Regions from separate parts of the Homo sapiens genome. Here region 1 is linked to region 2. Evidence: fine-mapped expression QTL. Tissue or cell type: whole blood. Region 2 holds a variant in brackets; the other region holds the start of a gene. All regions are shown on one strand. Distances are from middle to middle.

Evidence for each region. PIP is the estimated chance that this variant, and not a neighbour inherited with it, causes the effect. A credible set is the group of variants that fine-mapping cannot tell apart.
Region 1: it holds the start of CMPK2, and the variant in region 2 is the best candidate, but not a certain one, in a credible set for the expression of CMPK2 in whole blood (TOPMed, PIP 0.58).

The regions. Positions count from the first base shown.
Region 1 is chr2:6,864,762-6,867,672 of GRCh38, reverse strand. CMPK2 (cytidine/uridine monophosphate kinase 2) reads left to right here and starts at 1,766. Exons shown (of 5, transcript NM_207315.4): 1 at 1,766-2,651. The coding sequence starts at 1,977. It also overlaps a transcript of RSAD2 not described here. RefSeq lists silencers at 1,506-1,775, 2,016-2,455 and an enhancer at 1,776-1,995.
Region 2 is chr2:6,835,181-6,838,091 of GRCh38, reverse strand. The region is part of intron 1 of NRIR (negative regulator of interferon response); the gene reads left to right. Among named protein-coding and RNA genes, the nearest start is that of NRIR, 3.8 kb to the left of the region's middle. The variant A/G (reference allele first, on the strand shown) is at 1,829.

The DNA of each region.
Region 1 (2,911 bases), 30 kb before region 2:
GAAATAGACTGGCACGTGACTGTGGAGTGTCAAGGTCCGAGGATACAAATAGCCTTGGTGGGGGACACAGGAGAGGCTACTAACCCAGATATGTGGGGGGTTATAGGCTATATCATGTCCCCCAAAATTCATGCTCAGGCCTAGCCCCCAGTGCCTCACAGTATGACTGTATTTCAAAATAAGGCTTTCAATAGGTGATTACATTAAAATGAGAACATTATGATGGGCCCTAACCCAATCTGACTGGTGTCCTTCCCAGAAGAGGAAATTTGGAACTTCAAGGAGACGCCAAGGATGCAAGCACAAAGGAAAGGTCCCGTGAGAACACAGAGAGAAGGAGGCGGTCTGCACGCTAGAAAGAGAGGCCTCAGAAAAAGCAAACCCTGCTGGCAACTTGATCTCCAGCTTCTCTGGCCACCTGAACTTTGAGAAAACAAATTTTCTATTGTTTAGGCGGCCCAGTCCGTGGTATTTTGTTATGGCAGCCAGGATAGACTAATACATCCAGAGAGGTGGATGGCATAGGGAAAAGGTCAAGCAGGCTTGAGGATGCAGTACTGTCTTAGAGAAGAAAAGGGAGTAACTAGAAGACTCTTACTTCCATATACTACATACACGTGAAACCACCGGTACATGCTAAATGTCCAAAAGTGAAATTCCTGAGAAAGAATAAAAACTATTCTATTCTCAAAGAGCTAAAAAATTTTAAACTCCTAATTCTTCTTTCTTCTTAGCCTATTAACCCACACTCCAACCACCTATCTATATTTCACGTTTGTTAAGACTTTTTTTTTCAGAATTAAATATAATCCCAAGTTTAAGTCCAATACTATTAAGACATAAAAAAAAAACTGCTTTCAGCTCATCTAATGTTTTCAATCTTCGTCTCAATTCTATTTTTTTGAGAGAGTTTCCCTGGAGAATATTATCTTTTTGTTTGTTTTTGGTTTGCTTGACATCATTTTTAAAAGGCATCAGTTAATGAGTAAACACAGAATAAAATATCCAAATAACTGCGCAAACACTGTTACACTGTTAGGCAGTTACACTGTTAGGCAGCAACAGTGCTGATGCTGGACTGTGGCAGGCAGAGGGTGCTATCCTGACACACTTCACCTTAGTGCAGGAAACTTCAATTTGGTGGAAGAAAGGCGATTTCGAGGTGCCAATCTGGGCGACACTTCCCAGTTGGAGAGTCAGCAAAAGGGAGAGGGCAATTCCAAGAAGAGGGAAAAGCTTGTGCACAGGTGAGTGTGTGCAAAGGTGAGTGTGTGCACAGGTGAGTGAGTGCACAGGTGAGATAAGATACAGGAGAGGGAAGAGCCAGAACTGCGCCCTGTTCCCGCAGGAAAGCAGCTCTGCAGGATTAGAGGGGCGGGGACGCGTGGTCAGAGCTAGGAGTTGAGGTCGGGGAGGGAGCCCATGGTCTGCAGGGCCTGGTCAGTCATCCAAGGGCAGTAGTGCGCCTGCAAGTGGGCGTTGAAGAGCCCGTTACACCGGGAAGGGACTTCTCTGTCCCTCGCGCGTGCACCCCCGCCCCCCTCCATGCACCCGGCATAAGCCGCAGAGGAGGAACTCAAACCAGGGTCGGGGCCGCCAGCCACCCGCAGAACGCACACGGAGCTACCTTGGGGCCGACGGCGCGGGGCCTCATTCGGTGTCAGCCCCGGGAGCCGGCGCCTGGGGACCGCGCAGGCCCGCGGAGCCGCGCACCTGGGGCCCCGGGGCCAAGCGTCTGCTCCCGAGCGCCGGCCGTTTATCGCGCACATCTCGCGGCGAGGAGGAGAGGCCGGAAGGGCGCCCCAGCCCCAGGGCTCCTGCCCCGCCTGGGCCTCCGGCTTTCGTTTCCCCGCAACGCTTCGCTTTCGTTTCCCGCTGGCGCCTGGCTCCCTCCGGGTTTCGTTTCCCGCCGGCGCCTGGCTCCCGCCAGGTTTCGTTTCCGAGGCGGGGCCGAGGGCGGCGTCGCTGAGGCGCCCATGGCCTTCGCCCGCCGGCTCCTGCGCGGGCCACTGTCGGGGCCGCTGCTCGGGCGGCGCGGGGTCTGCGCTGGGGCCATGGCTCCGCCGCGCCGCTTCGTCCTGGAGCTTCCCGACTGCACCCTGGCTCACTTCGCCCTAGGCGCCGACGCCCCCGGCGACGCAGACGCCCCCGACCCCCGCCTGGCGGCGCTGCTGGGGCCCCCGGAGCGCAGCTACTCGCTGTGCGTGCCCGTGACCCCGGACGCCGGCTGCGGGGCCCGGGTCCGGGCGGCGCGGCTGCACCAGCGCCTGCTGCACCAGCTGCGCCGCGGCCCCTTCCAGCGGTGCCAGCTGCTCAGGCTGCTCTGCTACTGCCCGGGCGGCCAGGCCGGCGGCGCACAGCAAGGCTTCCTGCTGCGCGACCCCCTGGATGACCCTGACACCCGGCAAGCGCTGCTCGAGCTGCTGGGCGCCTGTCAGGAGGCACCACGCCCGCACTTGGGCGAGTTCGAGGCCGACCCGCGCGGCCAGCTGTGGCAGCGCCTCTGGGAGGTGCAAGACGGCAGGCGGCTGCAGGTGGGCTGCGCACAGGTCGTGCCCGTCCCGGAGCCCCCGCTGCACCCGGTGGTGCCAGACTTGCCCAGTTCCGTGGTCTTCCCGGACCGGGAAGCCGCCCGGGCCGTTTTGGAGGAGGTAAGAGTTCTGTCCGCTTCCAGCTCCCAGCGTGGCATCTGAACCCTTCAGACCAGAGAACTGGACCAAGAGGCTGGTCTGTAGAGCCGGTTCTTGCCTGGGTGGTTTGTTTATTTCCGTTCACAAATCAGGTAGGGAAGGTGTCCTGTATGCCAGGCAACTCTTTTAAGATTCTTGTTTGCAAGGATCTTCCAACCTGACGTGGAACATAGACCTACACCAAGCCACGCGATGCTTGCTGTAAAAGCATCCCAACAGCA
Region 2 (2,911 bases):
GCCTGATCTCGGCTCACTGCAACCTCTACCTCCCAGGCTCAAGCAATTCTCGTGCCTCAGCCTCCCAATTAGCTGGGATTACAGGCATGCACCACCATGCCCGGCTAATTTTTATGTTTTCTATAGAGATGGAGTTTCACCTTATTGCCCAGGCTGGTCTTGAACTCCTTGGCTCAAGCAATCCTTCCACCTCAGCCTCCCAAAGTGCTGGGATTACAGGTGTGAGCCATTGTGCCCAGCCAGTACTAAAACTATTTAAAAGGAACCCATGAGGCTGGGTGTAGTGGCTCACGTCTGTAATCCCAGCACTTTGGGGGGCCGAGGTGGGTGGATCACTTGAGGTCAGGAGTTCGACCTGTAGTCCCAAATACTTGGGAGGCTGAGGCAGGAGAATTGCCTGAACCCGGAAGGTGGAGGTTGCAGTGAGCTGAGATGGTGCCACTGCACTCCAGCGTGGGCAACAGAGCAAGATTCCATCTCAAATAAAATAAGATAAAAAATAAAAAGAACCCATGAGATATCAAATACTAAGCATATTAAAGAAAATACTGAAATCAATTATATGCAATTATTGATTGATTGCTTAGAGCTTAACAGACTAGATCCTGTGGAGTTTTCTTTCTATCTGCTAGACTAGGGTGCCTTGAGAGAAGGAACCTTGACGCTTTCCTATGTAAAAGTTGTCATACCCTGAAAGTGCCAGGTACAAAGATGACAGTCAATTCATGTTTCTTGTTTAATTCTCAAAGTTATAGTCTAGACATAAGTTACACTAGAGGATTAGAATATATAATAAAGTACGAATTATGTGATATGGACAATGAATCAGTTTAAAATATTTTTGAAGCCAGGAGACATGCCCAATGCTTTTTGATGTCTCCCACAGCCAACGTGGAGTTTGAATGTCTTAGCTCAGTGGTTCCCAACTCTGGTTATACATTAGAATCACCTGTGCAAGTTTTACAACAAGGGATGCCATGACCCTGCTACAGATCCATTAAGTCAGACTGTTCAGGAATGATGTGTGTGTGTGTGTGTGTGTGTGTGTGTGTTTTCCATTTGATCCAATGAACAGTTGGGATCAGGCACTGATCCACTTACATAGTTTCAAATATTCCTAAGCAAGTTGAAGGCACATGGCCAGCTACTAACACACCATTTTCCAAAGCATGAAGTTAAATCACAGTCTGTGAGGCAGACATGGAAAATAGCTAACCACTCCTTTGTGGAAAGGGCTGGGCCAGCTGAGCCTAGCACCACAATGTCAGTGCAATTCTGTGATTATCTCTTGTTCAATGTGCATTTTAAGGTATATATTATATGGGAGAGAGGTATTTGCAAATTTAAGGAGTCAAGAATATGTCAGGATTTAGTCCTCATAAATTTCATGTATTTAGAGAGTGACATAATGCTGTTTGTCCCACAGTATCTACTTACCACTTATTCTTGGTGACAGAATTTTAGCTGGATGCATGACTTTCTAGATTATGACTGCATTTCTTGGACTGTCTTGCAACCATATGTGCCACTGAAGTATGGTCTAGCCAATGGGGTGTGAGCAGATAAATATGTACCTCTTCAGGACTGTTTTTGCTCTCACAGAGGGTTGTGCTCAGATCCCATAGTCCTTTTCTGCCTTTCTGCTCATTGGAAGATAATAAGAATTGAAGAAGTCACTTTGACTGTGAGAGGGAAGTTATAGGTTGAGATGGTAGAGTCAGCTCACCTGCCCTTGCTGCTTACCTTGAACTGTTACGGGAAAGGAACATTCATCTCTATCTTGTTCAAGGTATGGTGATTTGGTAGTCCCTCTCTCTCTCTCTCTCAG[A/G]GAAAATAATGTTATATCTTAACATATACTTAATGTGCTCATTTATGGTGAGTTTGTATAACTGATCTCTTACTTTCTAACTTTATTATTCTCAAATAGAAAAGTAAATATATAACAAAGGACTATTGGGTATGGCATAGGCAGTTGTGAAATGAGTTAATATTGATATAAGCACACATTAGAAAAAAATTTATAGGGAAGGGAATGGAGCTTGGCTTTGAGAAATGGGCAGACATCCTTCAAATTTATTTTTGTTATATACAACTTTGTAAGTGACAGTTTAAATTATCTTAGAAAACAGACCAGGTCTTCAGAAGGCCCTGAAATATATGTCTTTCTTTTTCTGATGGGATCCCAAATGGAGTTTCTTGATTCTTGCCAATGTTAAGTCAGTATTCATTTTCACCACTGAATTTTGAGATATAGAGTGCATTAATCACTTGTACAGAAGCAGAAAAGATATGAACAAACTCAGATTGAAAAGTTGACTTCATGGCAATTTGTTCTCTGAGTCATATTTTTCCCTCCTTTTATCTGGGTTCAAATATGTCATTATATAATTTAGAAACAGATGTAATTCCTCAGCTACAGTGTCTTCTGCTCAATGCCATGTTGTTTCTGCACCTGGTATGACTAAGTAAGCTCTTATCATAGCTGTACTTCCTGTGGAAAACAACTGTCAACTCTGGAGAAAAAAATGTTCTGCAGGCAATGTAAAGAAGAGAGGAAGATTTTAGAGTGGACTTGAAACTTGGAAGAAAGGAATGTCTTAGGTTTTTATTCTAATGATAGGCCCATGTCAGCTCCACCTTGGTGACTAAACCCTGATAGAAAAGACATAAGGGTCTTTCTGTTATGAAATGAGACCACTGGGAAATGAAGGACAATCTTGCAAAAAAGATAGCCAAAAGGGGGAAACCCTAAATTTTGAGTATATACTCTGCCCAAATCTCTGGCTAATTCACAAATCATAGATGTGCAGGATAGACTTCACCAAAAGTTAAAATATTTGTATGAGATTTGAGCTGACATCCAAAAGAAGGTGTGCAGTTCTTGTCAAATGAAGCTAATTGCCCTCTAGAA